Linked DNA regions of Homo sapiens: region 1 is reported to be linked to region 2. Evidence: microRNA targets listed by miRTarBase, many of them from high-throughput screens and not tested one by one. Region 2 holds a microRNA gene; the other region holds the end of a gene's coding sequence.

Evidence for each region. Region 2 holds the annotated microRNA hsa-miR-6844 (UUCUUUGUUUUUAAUUCACAG, at 2,719-2,739, opposite strand). A microRNA usually pairs through its seed, bases 2 to 8, with sites in the 3' UTR of a target mRNA and lowers its output. Matches are read on the target gene's strand: a 7mer-m8 pairs with bases 2 to 8, a 7mer-A1 pairs with bases 2 to 7 and ends in A, and an 8mer does both.
Region 1: miRTarBase lists TRAPPC13 as a target of hsa-miR-6844. The part of its 3' UTR that is shown has no 7-base or 8-base seed match.

What each region holds. Positions count from the first base shown.
Region 1 is chr5:65,664,151-65,668,150 of GRCh38, forward strand. It overlaps TRAPPC13 (trafficking protein particle complex subunit 13), which reads left to right. Exons shown (of 13, transcript NM_024941.4): 12 at 87-234; 13 at 354-2,083. The coding sequence ends at 461. It overlaps SGTB (small glutamine rich tetratricopeptide repeat co-chaperone beta), which reads right to left. Exons shown (of 11, transcript NM_019072.3): 11 at 1,778-4,000. Among named protein-coding and RNA genes, the nearest start is that of TRAPPC13, 41 kb to the left of the region's middle.
Region 2 is chr8:124,505,797-124,510,337 of GRCh38, forward strand. It overlaps MIR6844 (microRNA 6844), which reads right to left and starts at 2,780; the gene lies at 2,719-2,780. TATDN1 (TatD DNase domain containing 1) reads right to left here. Exons shown (of 12, transcript NM_032026.4): 7 at 2,807-2,892; 8 at 2,678-2,718.

The sequences.
Region 1 (4,000 bases), not on the chromosome of region 2:
AAGTTTACTGTCACTAGTAGAAATATTGCAGTACCTCTTTGTGAAATGAACAAGATTTATTCCTATTATTCTGATTCCTCCAGCAGTGAAAGGACTATGGATCTGGTTTTGGAAATGTGCAATACCAATTCCATCCACTGGTGTGGAATTTCAGGAAGACAGCTGGGAAAGCTGCATCCAAGTTCTTCGCTCTGTCTTGCCCTTACTCTGCTTTCTTCAGTACAGGGACTGCAAGTATGCTGTCTTTTCAAAAATTCCAATATTTGGGTGCTGTTAACTTACAAGTCATTTGTGATGTCTGTATTTCCTCTGAATGAATGAAAACTTAGACTCATCTCTCTCTCTCTCAATAGAGCATCTCTGGCTTAAGACTAACAGACACATTCTTAAAGAGAACATATGAATATGATGACATCGCACAAGTCTGTGTGGTATCTTCTGCCATTAAAGTGGAAAGCTGAAGGAAACTTCCAATGTTAGGCTTTTCATTTAGTTTCACAGAACTGCTCTTTTTGTTACCTTTGTAAAATGATGACGTCAACAACGAAGTAAATATGTTACTTAAATTTTCTTTCCTGTAAAATGGTTAAAATATTAAATATTTGTTTTGAAGAGATCTGATTTTATCTTGTAATTTATATTTGAAATGAACATGTGTATATTTTCTACACCTATTATTTAATTTCATTTCATTTTAGATGACCATTGGACTTTGTTCTCCAAAAGCTGTGTATCTGAGACCATTTGTCCCTAGCAAGTTATCTAGAACACGAGTCAGCACACTTTTTATGTAAGGTACAAGATACTAAATATTTTAGGCTTTGCAGGCCGTAAGGTTTCTGTCACAAATACTGAACTCTGCCATCGTACTTCAAGAGCAGCCAGTAGGCAAAAAAAGTACAGTGGTGTACACAAAAAGAAGCAGTTGGACTCGGGAAGCTGAGGCAGGAGAATCACTTGAACCGGGGAGGCAGAGGTTGCAGTTAAGCCGAGATCATGCTACTGCACTCTAGCCTGAGCGACAGAGTGAGACTCTGTCTCAAAAAAAAAGAGGCAGCTGGGCAGATTTGGCCTGCAGGGTATAGTTGGCTGACCTCAATCTAGAAGATAGAGTTGTTTCTTAGAACTTTGTAATATTTTGGTTAGAAATATTTCAGTTAACTCCAGTTTTTTCCTAGCTATTCGGTCAGCAGAAAAAGTTTGCTTAAAACAAAGGGGGTAGTCCTCTTATAACCTGATATTTGTCAACACAGTATAAGCTTTCTAGTTGTTTTCAAAATTACTGTAATGGTTTGTGTCTGTATTTGTATATTATACCTACAAACATACATATCTTTCAGCTACTGAACACATCAGAATTGGTTTTACTTTTTAGGTTGTTGATTTTTTTTAATTAACTATTAACTAAGAATAATACTTATTTTCTAATTATAAGCCAAAAACCCCTGGGTTTTTTTCTCATTGATTAAGCCACTTATTTTTATAAGGTATATTTAAATAATTCCCATCTTCTGATATGATTTTAAACTCTAAATCATGTGTTACTGTTACAAAACTTTCTCTCTCCATGTAATCACACTTAGTTATGAGCAAAGCAGTGAGAAAGTTGAGGTGATAAACAACTTTGCAGCATTAATGTAACAAAAAGTTTCAGTATTTGTCAGGAAAACAAAAGCTTAGGCTGTTAAATAAAAGCTATTCTATTTTGGTAAGTTGAAATTCAAGAATGTATATATAATTTCTTAAATGTAAGAGTGCATTAAATCAAATACAAAAATTGGTTTTTCAATGCATCATTATTTATTGCCATAACAAATTGTTTGGTCCAAAATGAAAGCTATATTCAGAAGGTTTGCACCTCAAAATTGAGTAATAATTAATGAAATGTCTGTACAAAATAAAGTGCAAGCAGTGTAAAATTGAAGTCTGTCTTTGTTTCAAAATGATTAAGATTAAATGATGAAATAATATTTTATAGCCACTGCATTGGATACTTGGATTGTTTTTCAAGCATCTTCTTATGACTAAATCTTCTGTTTCATTCTGTTTTAAATCTAAAAAGTAAAATGATGGTCACTTGGAATCTGCTCTATATTTTAATTATAGTCTCTTCTGTTTATAAACAATAACTTACACATATTTTTCATAGTTTTAAGTAAAGATTAAATAATGCCATCTTAGAAAGGATCTGTTTAACCTATATTATAAAAGTTAGATACACAATTTGGTACATTAAATGAAAATGTCATTTGCATATATAGAACCTGTTCTGTTTTACACAGTATCATAATAGCTACAGCTACTACAAGAAATATGGTTAATGGAAGTCAAACATTTAGTACGATGCTTAAAGAGTTACTTTAATAATGCCCTCTTATTTTTCTAGTTAGATAGCAACTATATTTCCCAGACAAGCAAGAAAATATATGGGGCATTTTTTATAAATTTAAAAGTAGCTAGCACAATCCAACCACGCAACTTTTTTTGAAATAGCTTGCAATGCTATGATTCCAAAGTGATCAAGGTACTTGAAGAGCAAAAATGGCTTGAATAGAATGGAAATGTAGGCAAGTGGACAGATAGCATCTAGATTGAATTTGTTACAGGTGGTATATTAGCAAAGAAATAGAAAAATGAAATGGAAGAAATATACCAATTCCCATTATTTCATGTAAAAAGAATGGCTAATTTAACTACAGATGTTAGCACATGAAGACATTGTTTTAAAGTTTTTTTTCTTATAGTATCTTTGTCTGGGTAATACTGGTCAAATAAAATGAGTTGGGAAGTATTTCCTCCTCTTCTGTTTCCTGGAAGAGATTGTTTAGAATTGATATTATTTCTCCCTTAAGTGTTTGGTAAAATTCATCACGGAAGTTATCTGGGCCTGTAGTTTTCTTTACTGGAAGGTTTTTAACTTAACCACAAACTCAATTTCCTTAATAAATATGGTTCTGTTTAGGTTATCTGTTTCTACAGTGAGCTTTCTAGTTTGTATCCTATAGGGAATCTGTTTCATCTAAGTTGTTAAATATACAATCCTTGAGTTGGTCATGGTGTTTTCTAGTTAGCCTTTTAATAACTATAGTGTCTGTAGTGTATTCCCTTTCATTTCTGACACTGAATTTGTATCTTCTGTTTTTCTAGGCAGTCAGCTAGAAGCTTATCTTATTGCTCTAAAAGCATTTTTAATGCACTCAAGATAGTTATGCTAGAAACTTTAACTTCTTATTCAACACTGAATATGAGTGACTAATTTTTAATTAAGGATCTATTTTGCTTTTTATATCACAGTAATGACTTCTATGTGTTAGTAGTAGTACTTCGTTCTGTGTAATACTGGAATACTAGGAGTTCATTCTAACTTAATGAAAATCAAAGTTGGCTTAGATGGAATATGAATTTAACTTCTGAGGGCCGAAGACTTAAATTGTGCTCTTTTTAAATTCTGCAGAACTATATATCTTCATACAGATCTTCGTTGTAGCTTTGTTTGGCCCAGGTGCTTAGGTGTTTGCAGGTCTGAGAAACCTCTAACCTAGTGTTCCTCTAAATTAGAGTCCTTGGATCTGTATCAAAACCACCTAGTGTACTGTTTAAAAATGGCCATTCCTAGGCCTTATTACAGGACCTACTGTATCAGAATTGAACACGTGGCCCTGAATCTGCATCTTTAATGAATTATCCAGGTGATTCTTACAATGAAGTTATAGAACTACTGTTCTAATGTCACAAAGGAGAAAGAGAAAAGTTGGATTTTAAACTTCAAGATACAAAATAATTAGTCTCTTAGTCTCTTTTTCTTTTTTTTTTTTTTTTTGAAATGGAGTCTTGCTCTGTCACCCAGGCTGGAGTGCAGTGGCGCAATCTTGGCTCACTGCAACCTCTGCCTCTCAGGTTCGAGCAATTCTCATGCTTCAGCCTCCCAAGTAGCTGGGACTACGGGTGCCCGCCACCAAGCCAGGCTAATTTTTGTATTTTCAGTAGAGGTGGGTTTCAC
Region 2 (4,541 bases):
ATAAAGAAGCCTGCATTACACAGCTGCCTGCATTATTCTTTCCTTCACCATTTCCAGCTGACTAGAAAAGATGCCCTCCATTAATATCGAAATCATTTTAAAAGTGACTCCTCATAAACCATTTCAGAAAACTAGTTATTAATTATTTGGCAATTTCTTTTTTGGTAAAAGTCAAACATTTAGGTTGGATTTGTTGTTGCTTTTGTTAATTTTAAAAACTATTAATAGAACCCAAGTAAATTCTTATTTAGAAATAGGCTGGGCACAGTGGCTCCCATCTGTAATCCCAGCACTTTGGGAGGCCGAGGCAGGTGGATCGCTTGAGGTCAGGAGTTCAAGACCCACCTGGCCAACATGATGAAACCCTGTCTCTACTGAAAATACAAAAATTAGCCAGGCGTGGTGGTGCGTGCCTGTAGCCCCAGCTACTCGGGAGGCTGAGGCAAAAGAATTGCTTGAACTTGGAAGACAGAAGTTGTGGTGAGCCAAGATCGTGCTATTGCACTCCAGCCTGGGTGACAGAGCAAGGCTCTGTCTCAAAAAAAAAAAAAAAAAAAAAAGAAAAAGAAAAAAAGAAAAGAAATAAAGCAAATGGGCTGAGAGGTAGAGTCTGAAGGTTAGGATAAATACCACTAATAATCCCAACGGCATTAGTTAAAACTAAAACCCCTCTCAATTCTTAAGTACAGTTCCTACAGGATAAATTACAGAGTAAGTAAAAACAGGAAAAAATTACAGAGTTAGTACAAACAGGAAAAAAGTGCACAGTAATATTAACATTACAGCAATGCAGGATGCATACATATTACTAGTAGTATAGATGAGGCAGAGGTTGAACTTAGAGAATACGCATAAAACTGTCAACGTCAGGCCGCATGGGAATGCAAGTGCTTGGTGCTATTTCCTCTTTCCTTAGCAGGCATAGTGTAACTGTGATTTAATCTACCTGGATTACAGTTCTTTTGCTAGACACAGTCACTCACTGAGTCACTCTCCTGAAATTGCATATGAATATATGTATATCTGAGCATTTTTCTAAGGCAGGTTTCCAAAGGAGTCCATGATCGAAGAGACTAAAAATCATGGCTGGGCAAGGTGGCTCATGCCTGTAATCCTAGCACTTTGGGAGGCTGATGGGGGGAGGATCATGAGGTCAAGAGATCGAGACCATCCTGGCCAACATGGTGAAACCCCGTCTCTACTAAAAATACAAAAATTAGCTGGACGTGGTGGTGTGCACCTGTAGTCCCAGGTACTTGGGAGGCTGAGGCAGGAGAATTGCTTGAACCCAGGTGACGGAGGTTGCAGTGAGCTGAGATTGTGCCACTCCACTCCAGCCTGGTGACAGAGCGAGACTCCATCTCAAAAAAAAAAAAATCACTGCCATAGATATCGGAGGTATGTGGTTAGCAGATAGTATTTATGGGAAATGTCTCCAGAATAATGACTAAAATGGCTATATCAGAGAAGTGTTTAGTGCAGAATGCAAATTACAGAAAGGAGAATGACTCTCTAGATCAGAATAGTAGGTGAATACAGCGGACAAGAAATGAGAAAGGCAAACCTAAAACAAATGGTAAAATATTTCAAAACATAAAAATTAGTTTATATTTGCTCAAAATTTGGATGGAAGAACATTAAAGAACAGCTGACAGAAGAGACGAAGAATATCATGCACAGCATTAGGATGTGTAGAATTCAAGGGCCAGGCACAGTGGCTCACACCTGTAATCCCAACACTTTGGGAAGCCAGGGTGGGCAGATTGCTTGAGTTTAGGAGTTCGAGATCAGCCTAGGCAACATAGTAAAACTTCATCTCTACAAAATATACAAAAAAATTAGCTGGCCATGGTGGCACATGCCTGTAGTCCCAGCTACTTGGGAGGCTGAGGATGGCTTGATCCCGGGGAAGCAGAGGTTGCAGTGAGCTGAGATTGTGCCACTGCACTTCAGCCTGGATGACAGAGCCAGACCCTTTCTTAATAACCAAAAAAAAAAAAAAACAAAAAACACACACAAAAAACAAAAAAAATTTCACAGGGTTTTCTTGTGAATGGAATTCTGTACGCATTCTTGTACTTTGAACAAAGGAACTGTAATTAAAACTGATTTGTGTTTATGCCACACCTGGTCCATAAATTCAACAGTAAATTTACATGTCTTTCAAAGGATGGGAAAAGAAGCTCCTAATTCTATTGAATTCTATCTAATTCCTATGTTTTTCTTTGTTATTCCTTTTTAAAAAAAATTTAAATGTTGACATCTGAATTAGGGGCCATCCTTAATAACCAAGATGCTTTGTGTGTCACATAAATGTTAAGTATCCCTTATCCCAAGTGTGTGGGACCAAAAGTGTTTCATATTTCAGATTTTTTCAGATTTTGGAATATCTGCATATACATAAAAAGAAATCTTTGGGAAGGGACTCAAGTCTAAACATGAAATTCATTTATGTTTCACATACACCTTATACCACACCCTGAAGGTAAATATTTTAAATAATTTTGTGCGTGAAACAAAATTTGTGTACAATGAATAATCAGAAAGCAAAGGTGTCATTATCTCATGCCAGTGCTTAAAAAGGTTCAGATTTTGGAGCATTTTGTACTTGGGAGTATTTTGGATTTTTGGATTAGAGATGTTCAACCTGTATTAAAAATGACTATTTTATACTTACCACTCCCCCTACACACCGATCTCTATTTCTTTTCATTATGTCTGTGAATTAAAAACAAAGAACTTTTAGCAAATAGCTTGATTTCTACAAAATTCTTAAGTTCTGAATGAGACTTTGGTTTTAACTCACCCAAAAATTCAGCATGTGAGTTTCGACAATGAAGAAACATTGGTAATTTTGTTTGTTCTGACAGTTCAAACTGTTTTTCAAAATATCTGCATAATGCAAAAAAAAAAAATTCTCATTACAAATTGTATTTTAGCATGAGGAAGGTAATGATGTCAAAAGAGCTTTTAAATTAAAGGTATTTAATTCTCTAGAAATTACAGGACAAAAATCATGAATATTTAAAGCACATCAGGCTTATCAAAGGGCTTTTATAACTTACAACTTCTGGAAAGAAATACTTCATTTTCTGGGCTTACAAAATTATCTGGGCCCTTTAATTTTCAGAAAGTAACACCACTGGCCCCTTGCCACTGGGAGCACCATCAGTGGGAGTCAACTCACCAAGCGAGAAGCCCAGGAGAGCTTCATACTGCATGCTAATCTATTCCATTTTGCAACCAGTTTTTTATGTGCTGTTATAAAAGAAGTTATTGCCACTGGGCAAAATGAACAAGGTTTCCCTCAAAAATGAAATCTAAGTATTTGCTAAACAGCAAATAACTCAATTATGCTATTAAAAAAAGAAAATTACATGATAAAGTGGTAGCCCTGAATATCTTAAAGAGTACTTGATAAGAAGGTTTTTCCAAGTACCAGATACCATTGTCTCATTTGATCCTCAAAATAACCTGAGTATAAAAGCTGGTGTCAGAGAGGTGTAGTACTTTGTCCAAGATAACAATACCTGGCATGGCCAACTTGGAACAGAACTTCACTGCTCTAATTCCAAGTCCCAGCCTAAACGACAAAAACCTGTTACGTTTTCAAGAAGCTTCCTTCTGGTCCCGGAGTATAATGACAATATTCAGAGGATACAACGAATGTTCATTCTGTTTGTCTTTTCACTTCAACACAGTGCTCCCCCTTGTTCTCACAAATGGTAGGTTCAACTGAATCAGGATAACAGGTGGCTTATTATTTTCTTAAATGTGCTTACCTCTTCTAAGCACTTTAATTTGGGGAAACAATTTCTCTGTTTAACTTAAGCCTCTCTTGCTATATTTTTCTATATCATATTTCCTGATGTGCAGGACTATTTTACCCCCTTTGCTCTCTTGAAAATGCTAAATTTTAAAATTAGAAATAGAAATGTACTTCTTAAGAAGCAGTCTTCAGGCCGGGCGTGGTGGCTCACACCTGTAATGCCAGCACTTTGGGAGGCCAAGGCGGGTGGATCACTCAAGGGCAGGAGTTCAAGACCAGCCTGGCCAGCATGGTGAAACCTCGTCTCTACTAAATATACAAAAATTAGCCGGCATGTTGGCACATGCCTGTAATCCCAGCTATTCGGCAGGCATGAGAATCTCTTGAACCCAGGGTCAGAGGTTGCAGTGAGCTGAGATTGTACCACTGCACTCCAGCCTGGGTGAGAGAGCAACATTCTGTCTCAAAAAAAAAAAAAAAAATTAAAAATTAAAAAAATAGAAATAGTCTTCCTAAAATAGGTCGTCTATGTCTGTATTACCAAATGTTTGGGTTTTAAAATCTCCTTTTCAGATTCTGCTGGGTTAGAATAAGCAAAAATATTTTCCTTTCATTAACAAAGTGCTGAAATTTTGCAGTGTAGGAAATATTAACGACAACTTGGACAAAAAGAGATTTTGATAATATAACCAGTCACTATTTCCATAACCTCTAAAGTAAACCAAATGTCAGCAGTTAAGTGTGCACTAGTCATTATGTCAACTTTACTAAT